Linked DNA regions of Homo sapiens: region 2 is linked to region 1. The links come from fine-mapping of genetic effects on gene expression. A gene starts in region 1. The other region holds a variant in brackets. All regions are shown on one strand. Distances are between the middles of the regions. Region 1 holds the start of BTBD2 (BTB domain containing 2). Region 2 holds the start of LOC124904610 (a long non-coding RNA gene).

Region 1 (2,890 bases):
TCATAGGTTGGGGGTTACGGACTGAGGTGGTGAGGACTGGGGACGGGGGGTCTCAGGTGAGAGCGGAGAAGTCTCTCCATCCTGGGATGCAGGGGTGACACACTTGAGTGTAGTGGGGTCCCAGGGGGCCCCGGGAGTAGAGAGTGGAAGGGCAGTGGGCAGGGGTGAAGGACCTGGGGAAGGAGGGGTCCTGGAGAGTCCCTGGGTACAGGGACGGAGGGGTCACCAGTAGGGGTCCCAGGGGGAGAGGGGCGGCAGGCAAGGGTGCAGGGCCTGGGGATGGAGGGGTCCTGAGGATCCCCGGGTATAGGGATGGAGGGGTGTGGCATGTGGGGTCATGGGTCCTAGAAACAGTGGGTTGGGGTCCTGGGAATGGAGGAGCAGATAGGGGTACACGTCCCAGGGTTGGAGGGTCACAGGAGTCCCAGGGGTGGTGGGTGGGGGTGCAGGGCCAGGGCATGGAGGGGACCCAGGGATGCAGGCCAGGTGGGGTCCAGGGATGGAGGGGCCTGGGGTGTAGGCAGGGGTTCCAGCCGGAGGTGGAGGGGCCCAGGGATCTGGGGGCAGAGGTGTCTGGGGACCTGGGGTGCAGGGAGGGGTGAGGTCCAGGGATGGAGCGTCCTGGGGATGGAAGAATGGAGGGTCCTAGGGTGCAGGCGGGGGGTGGAGGGCCCTGAGGATGGGGTATTCAGGGTTCTGGGGTGCGGGCTGGGTGGGGTTTGAGGATGGAGGGGCCCAGGGGCTCCAAGTGCAGGCCGAGTTGGAGGGTCCCAGGAACGGAGGGTACCGGAGTGCAGGCTGGGTGGGTCCAGGGACGGAGGAGAGCAGGGGTCCCAGGGGTACAGGGCCTGGGATCCCGGGGAACAGGCTGGGGGCGCAAGCCAGAGGTGGAGGATCCAGGGGGGCCTGGGGATGGAGGGGTGCAGAGGCCCAGAGTGCAGGCCTGGTGGGGTCTGGGGACAGAGAGGTGCAGAGGCAGGGACAGAGGGGTGCAGAGCCCAGGGAACTGGGTGGAGTCTAGGGATGGAAGGGTGCAGGCCCCGGGGTGCAGGCCGGGTCGGTTTCAGGACCGGAGGGGTGCAGGGGTCCCAGGGACAGAGGGGTGCAGGGCCTCAGGTGCAGGCCCCGGGGTGCAGGCCGAGTTGGGTTCGGAGCCTGAGGATGCAGGGGTGCAGGGGTCCCGGGGACAGAGGGGTGCAGGGCTCGGGGATGGAGGGGTGCGGGGGTCTCGGGGACAGAGGGGTGCAGGGCCTCAGGTGCAGGGCCCGGGCAGCAGGCTGGGTGGGTCGGGGCCAGGGCTGGCGGGGTCGGGGCGCCCACCTGTGCGCGGGGATGCGCTGCGAGCTGAGCCCCTTGCCCACCAGGAAGTGCACGTCGCACAGCACCTCGTTGTTGAAGAGGAAGGCGAAGCGCTCCTGCACGGTGGGCTTGCTGGCCTGCCAGTTGTACGCGGCCTCGCGCTGCAGCGCCGCCGCCCCCGGGCCCGCCGCCTCCTCCGCCCGCTCCGCGCCCGCGGCCTGCGCGTCTGTCCCGGGGCCCGGCGGGGCGGGCGGCGTCGGCCCAGGGGCGGCGGCGGCGGCGGCGGCGGCGGCGGCGGCGGCGGCCGCGTTGCCGGGGGCCGGGGTGGCGGCGGCGTTGGCGCTGGGCCCGGGACTGCCCCCCGTGCCCGGGCCGACCCCGACCCCCGGCGGGCACGACGCACGCCCGCCGCTCCCACCCGCCGCCATTTTGTGGCTGCGGCGTGGGCGGGGGAGGGGAGGAGGGAAGGAGGGAGGGGAGGAGGGAAGGAGGGAGGGGAAAGGAGGAGAGTAGGGGGAGGAGGGGGAGGAGGGAGGGGAGGGGAAAAGAGGAGGGAGGGGAAAGGAGGGGAGGAGGGAGGGGAGGGGAAGCGGGAAGGAGGGAGGGGAGGAGAGGGAGGGGAAAGGAGGGGGAAGGAGGGAGGGGAGGAGAGGGAGGGGAAAGGAGGGGGAAGGAGGGAGGGGAGGAGAGGGAGGGGAAAGGAGGGGGAAGGAGGGAGGGGAGGAGAGGGAGGGGAAAGGAGGGGGAAGGAGGGAGGGGAGGAGAGGGAGGGGAAAGGAGGGGAGGTGGGAGGGGAGGAGGGAGGGGAGAAGGGAGGTGAATGGGGGAGGCTGTTGCAGGGGAGGGGACGGGGAGGAGAGGGAAGAGTAGGAGGGGCCTGTAGAGGGGAGGAGCTGGTGGAAGACCTCTTGCTCCACTCCCTAAGCATCCTGACCTGAAGCCCAGACTCCAGACCGAGGTCCAGAATTTGGGGTCCAGGCACCAGGCCCCAGACTCCAGACCGGGAATCCTAAACCCTGGAGCACAGACCTCAGTCCGGGATCCCAGGCCTCAGACCTTGAATCCTAGATCCCAGACTCTGAACCCCAGACTTCAGACTCCGGATTCCAGATCCCATACCTCAGACCCGGAACCCCCAACCCAAAGACCAAGCGCAAACTCCAGACCCCAGACCCCGGACCCAGGTGGCGGGCCTGCTCCGTGGCGCAGGCTCCGCTGTACAGAGACATAGCCTGAGGCCGGGAAGCTGCGGATGAGCGAGCAGGATGCAGGCCACGTGCACTGACACTCAGCAGACGCCCAGCACCCTCTCCAGGCCAGGTGTGGGGGGTGGTCAGTGTGGACGGAGCTGGGACTCCCCCAAAACGCTTACTACATACATAATGTCAAGGTAGACAAATGCCACAAAGATTGAGGAACCAGGTCGGGCGCAGTGGCTCACGCCTGTAATCCCAGCACTTCAGGAGGCCAAGGCGGGGGGTGCATCACCTAAGGTCAAGAGTTGGAGACCAGCCTGGGCAACATGGCAAAACCCTGTCTCTACAAAAAATACAAAAATTAGCCAGGCGCGGTGGCTCACGTCTGTAATCCC
Region 2 (2,890 bases), 29 kb before region 1:
GTTGAGTTAGTTAGGGTCTTGCTCTTGCCCAGGGGGGAGGGCAGTGGTGCATCACTGCTCACTGCAGTCTCGACCTCCCGGGCTTCAGTGTGGCCTGTGGGTACTTAAGGAGGGTCTCGCAGCACTGGCGACCAGACCCGGGGTTCAGGGCCCCTCTCGGCGCACGACATCCCTCGCCCACTGCAGCCCGGATGACAGGGCAGAGAGTGAAGGGGAGCAAAGCAGTGTGCGCTCAAGGCAGGTGCATTTGTTTCTTTATTTAAAAAAATCATCTGGGGGCATGGTCTGAGGAGGACACCCCTCCCATGGCTTTGGGGAGGACGCAGGTTCCAGGAGTCACAGGGCAGAAACACGCGGGGTGGGTGGGGGCGTGGCCGGAGTGGGGAGGGGCTGTGCCCCCAGCACCTGGGGGTGGCTCCCACGGCACCAGGTGGGCTAGGGCAACAGTATGTACAGGCGAGCAGTGCTCCTGGACCCGGTCGGGGCCGGCTGGGGCCCCATTCTGCGGCAGGGGAGCTCTGGGGCACAGGGTCTGAGTCCCATCTTGGGCTGCAGGGACCGCGAGGGCCGTCCAGGGAGGCTGGACAGCGGGGGCCTTTATCTGGGCCCATCAGGTGGATGAGAACGGACACTGCAAACCGCTCACCACCTGGGCCAGGGCTAGGCCTATCCGGCAGGGGCCGTCCCCACACTGAATCCTGCGTGCGCAGAACTCAAGCCGGCATCCAGGCAGTGGGAACGCCCCGCAGGCTGGGCTTGGGTGGCCTCGGGCACGTGACAGGTGGGGCCCGTGTCCTGATAAACGGACAGGAACAAAAGGAACGCAAGGTCTGGGACCCACGGCTCTGGGAGCAGCGCCACCCAGGCTGGCTCCTAGCAGAGAAATGGGAATCGCAAATGCATTGCAATGTGCAGTGAAGAGACGCGAGGGACGCCCGCGGCGCACCGCCGGCAGACGACGTGGGCAGGCGCCCTGAGCTGCGGGTCCGTGGGCCCTGGCCCAGGCCGGCACAGCCCTGTCCCTAGTCCTGAGGGATTGTCTCCACAGGGCCTGGCCACTGGCCTGGCCACCTCCCCGGCTGCCCTGATCCAGCAGCCACACTCGTGGTGAACACAGGGCAACCCCGTCCTGATGCTGAGAAAGGTGGCATGGAGTGGACAGACGGCCTGGGGGACACTGGGCCTGGCACCGCGTGGTGGGGGGGCCCCAGCAGCAGATGATGGCCTGGGGCTGCGGCTATCCCC[A/G]CGGAGGGAGGGCGGTGTCGGTGTCGGGCAGCCTAGGTGTAGAAGATGACCTCGGGGATCTGGCCGTCCTCCACGGATGTGCCATTGTTGTTCCCGGCCGCGTAGCAAAAGGTGAAGCAGGTCTTGGCGCCCGTGGTGGGCGACTCGTGTGTCACCTTGCGCAGGCCTTTGGTGCCGTAGTGGGAGTCTGGGCCCTGTAGGGAATAGGGGTACAGTGAGGTCAAGGACCACCAGGCTGGGATGCCCCAGGTGTGGACAGGGCAAGGCCCCGACTGGGCCAGGGTGGCTGCCTCTGGAGAGTGTGTGCTGTGCCCCGGTGGCTTCAGGATGGGCCAGAGACTCCCACGGAGGGACCCCTGTCCCCGGCGGCGCACCTTGAGCGTGGCACAGGCCGTGTAGTTGACGTTGGGCAGCACCTCCACCGGCTCCTTGAACATGACGCGGAAGGTGCTGGCTGAGCCGTCGCAGCTGAAGCCCGTGTCGTTCTGGCCCAAGACGGTGTTGCTATCGGTGTGAATAATCTGCGGGGAGGTGGGAAGTGGGAGGCTCAGGCCTGGGGAGGGCCAACGGGGACCCCTCGAGGCCCAGCCCACCTGCCCAGGGTGGGGGCAGCACAGGGACCAGGGCCGGGGGTTCAGCCAGGGTTCCATGGAGGTGGAGAGAGGACATGGGCCTGAGTGGGGCCTGGGGATGAGGCTTGGGGCTGGTACCTGGATGTTCACTTGGTAGTCGGTGGGCCCGTGGATGGATCCATACAGCCCAAATCCCACCACGAAGATGCGCTTGTTGACTGAGAACCTGCCGTGGCAGATGACAGGCAGCAGCGTGGATACCCAGGGATAGCCTAAGGTGAGCTGGGGCGAGCCCACCCCCATGCCCGGTCCCCTCCATCGTCCCTGAGTCCTCCACCCCCATGCCCGGCGGCCCCCCCGCCGTCTTCATCATCCCTGAGTTCTCCACCCCCATGCCCGGCCCCCCATCTCCGTCATCCCCGAGTCCTCCACCCCCATGTCCGGACCCCCCCGCCTGCACCCCAAGCCCCACCTGATGCGGTCACTGGTCCCGCTGTAGCCCCAGCGACTCTCCACCTGCTGGAAGCGGTTGATGCTGCACTCCTTCCCACGCAGGCAGCAGCGGGGCCGGTCAATGAACTCCACTCGTGGCTTGGGGTTGACGGTGAAGTGCAGGAAGAGGCTGACCACCTCGCGGTCCACCAGGATGCCCGACTGTGCGGGACCTGCAGCACAGGGAGGGTGTGGGGGAGGGCCGGGCTGCACCCCAGGATCCCGAGTGCCTGGGAGGACACGCTCCTTCCCCCTAAGATGTCTGCGTCGGACTTTCAAGGTGCAGGGACCTGGGCAGCCCCTCCCCGGGGGACTAGCCACCAGCCATGGCCCCTGCTGCCTGGGCTTTTAGGGAGAGGTCCCAGGGCACAGACCAGAGGCCGACAGATACGCTCACTCAGGGGCGATGCCTCAGGGTCTGACAGATGCACTCACTCAGGGGTGATGTCTCAGGGTCTGGCCCCACTGTAGGGACCACCCGTCACTTCACTGTGGGTGGGGGCGGGGGGCTCCACTGCCTGTTCTCTCAGGGCCATTGGCTGGGAGGGGTCACTGTGGCTCCCTGCTAGGCCTGTACCCCC

Evidence for each region.
Region 2: its variant is fine-mapped to the expression of BTBD2 in thyroid (GTEx, PIP 0.92).

Annotation. Positions count from the first base shown.
Region 1 is chr19:2,013,977-2,016,866 of GRCh38, forward strand. BTBD2 (BTB domain containing 2) reads right to left here and starts at 1,738. Exons shown (of 9, transcript NM_017797.4): 1 at 1,321-1,738. The coding sequence starts at 1,727. It overlaps LOC107985278 (a long non-coding RNA gene), which reads right to left. Exons shown (of 4, transcript XR_001753845.2): 4 at 2,369-2,890. RefSeq lists silencers at 1,335-1,384, 1,395-1,544.
Region 2 is chr19:1,985,211-1,988,100 of GRCh38, forward strand. BTBD2 (BTB domain containing 2) reads right to left here. Exons shown (of 9, transcript NM_017797.4): 6 at 2,290-2,482; 7 at 1,956-2,043; 8 at 1,620-1,766; 9 at 238-1,439. The coding sequence ends at 1,278. It overlaps LOC124904610 (a long non-coding RNA gene), which reads left to right and starts at 2,482. Exons shown (of 2, transcript XR_007067086.1): 1 at 2,482-2,890. The variant A/G (reference allele first, on the strand shown) is at 1,246.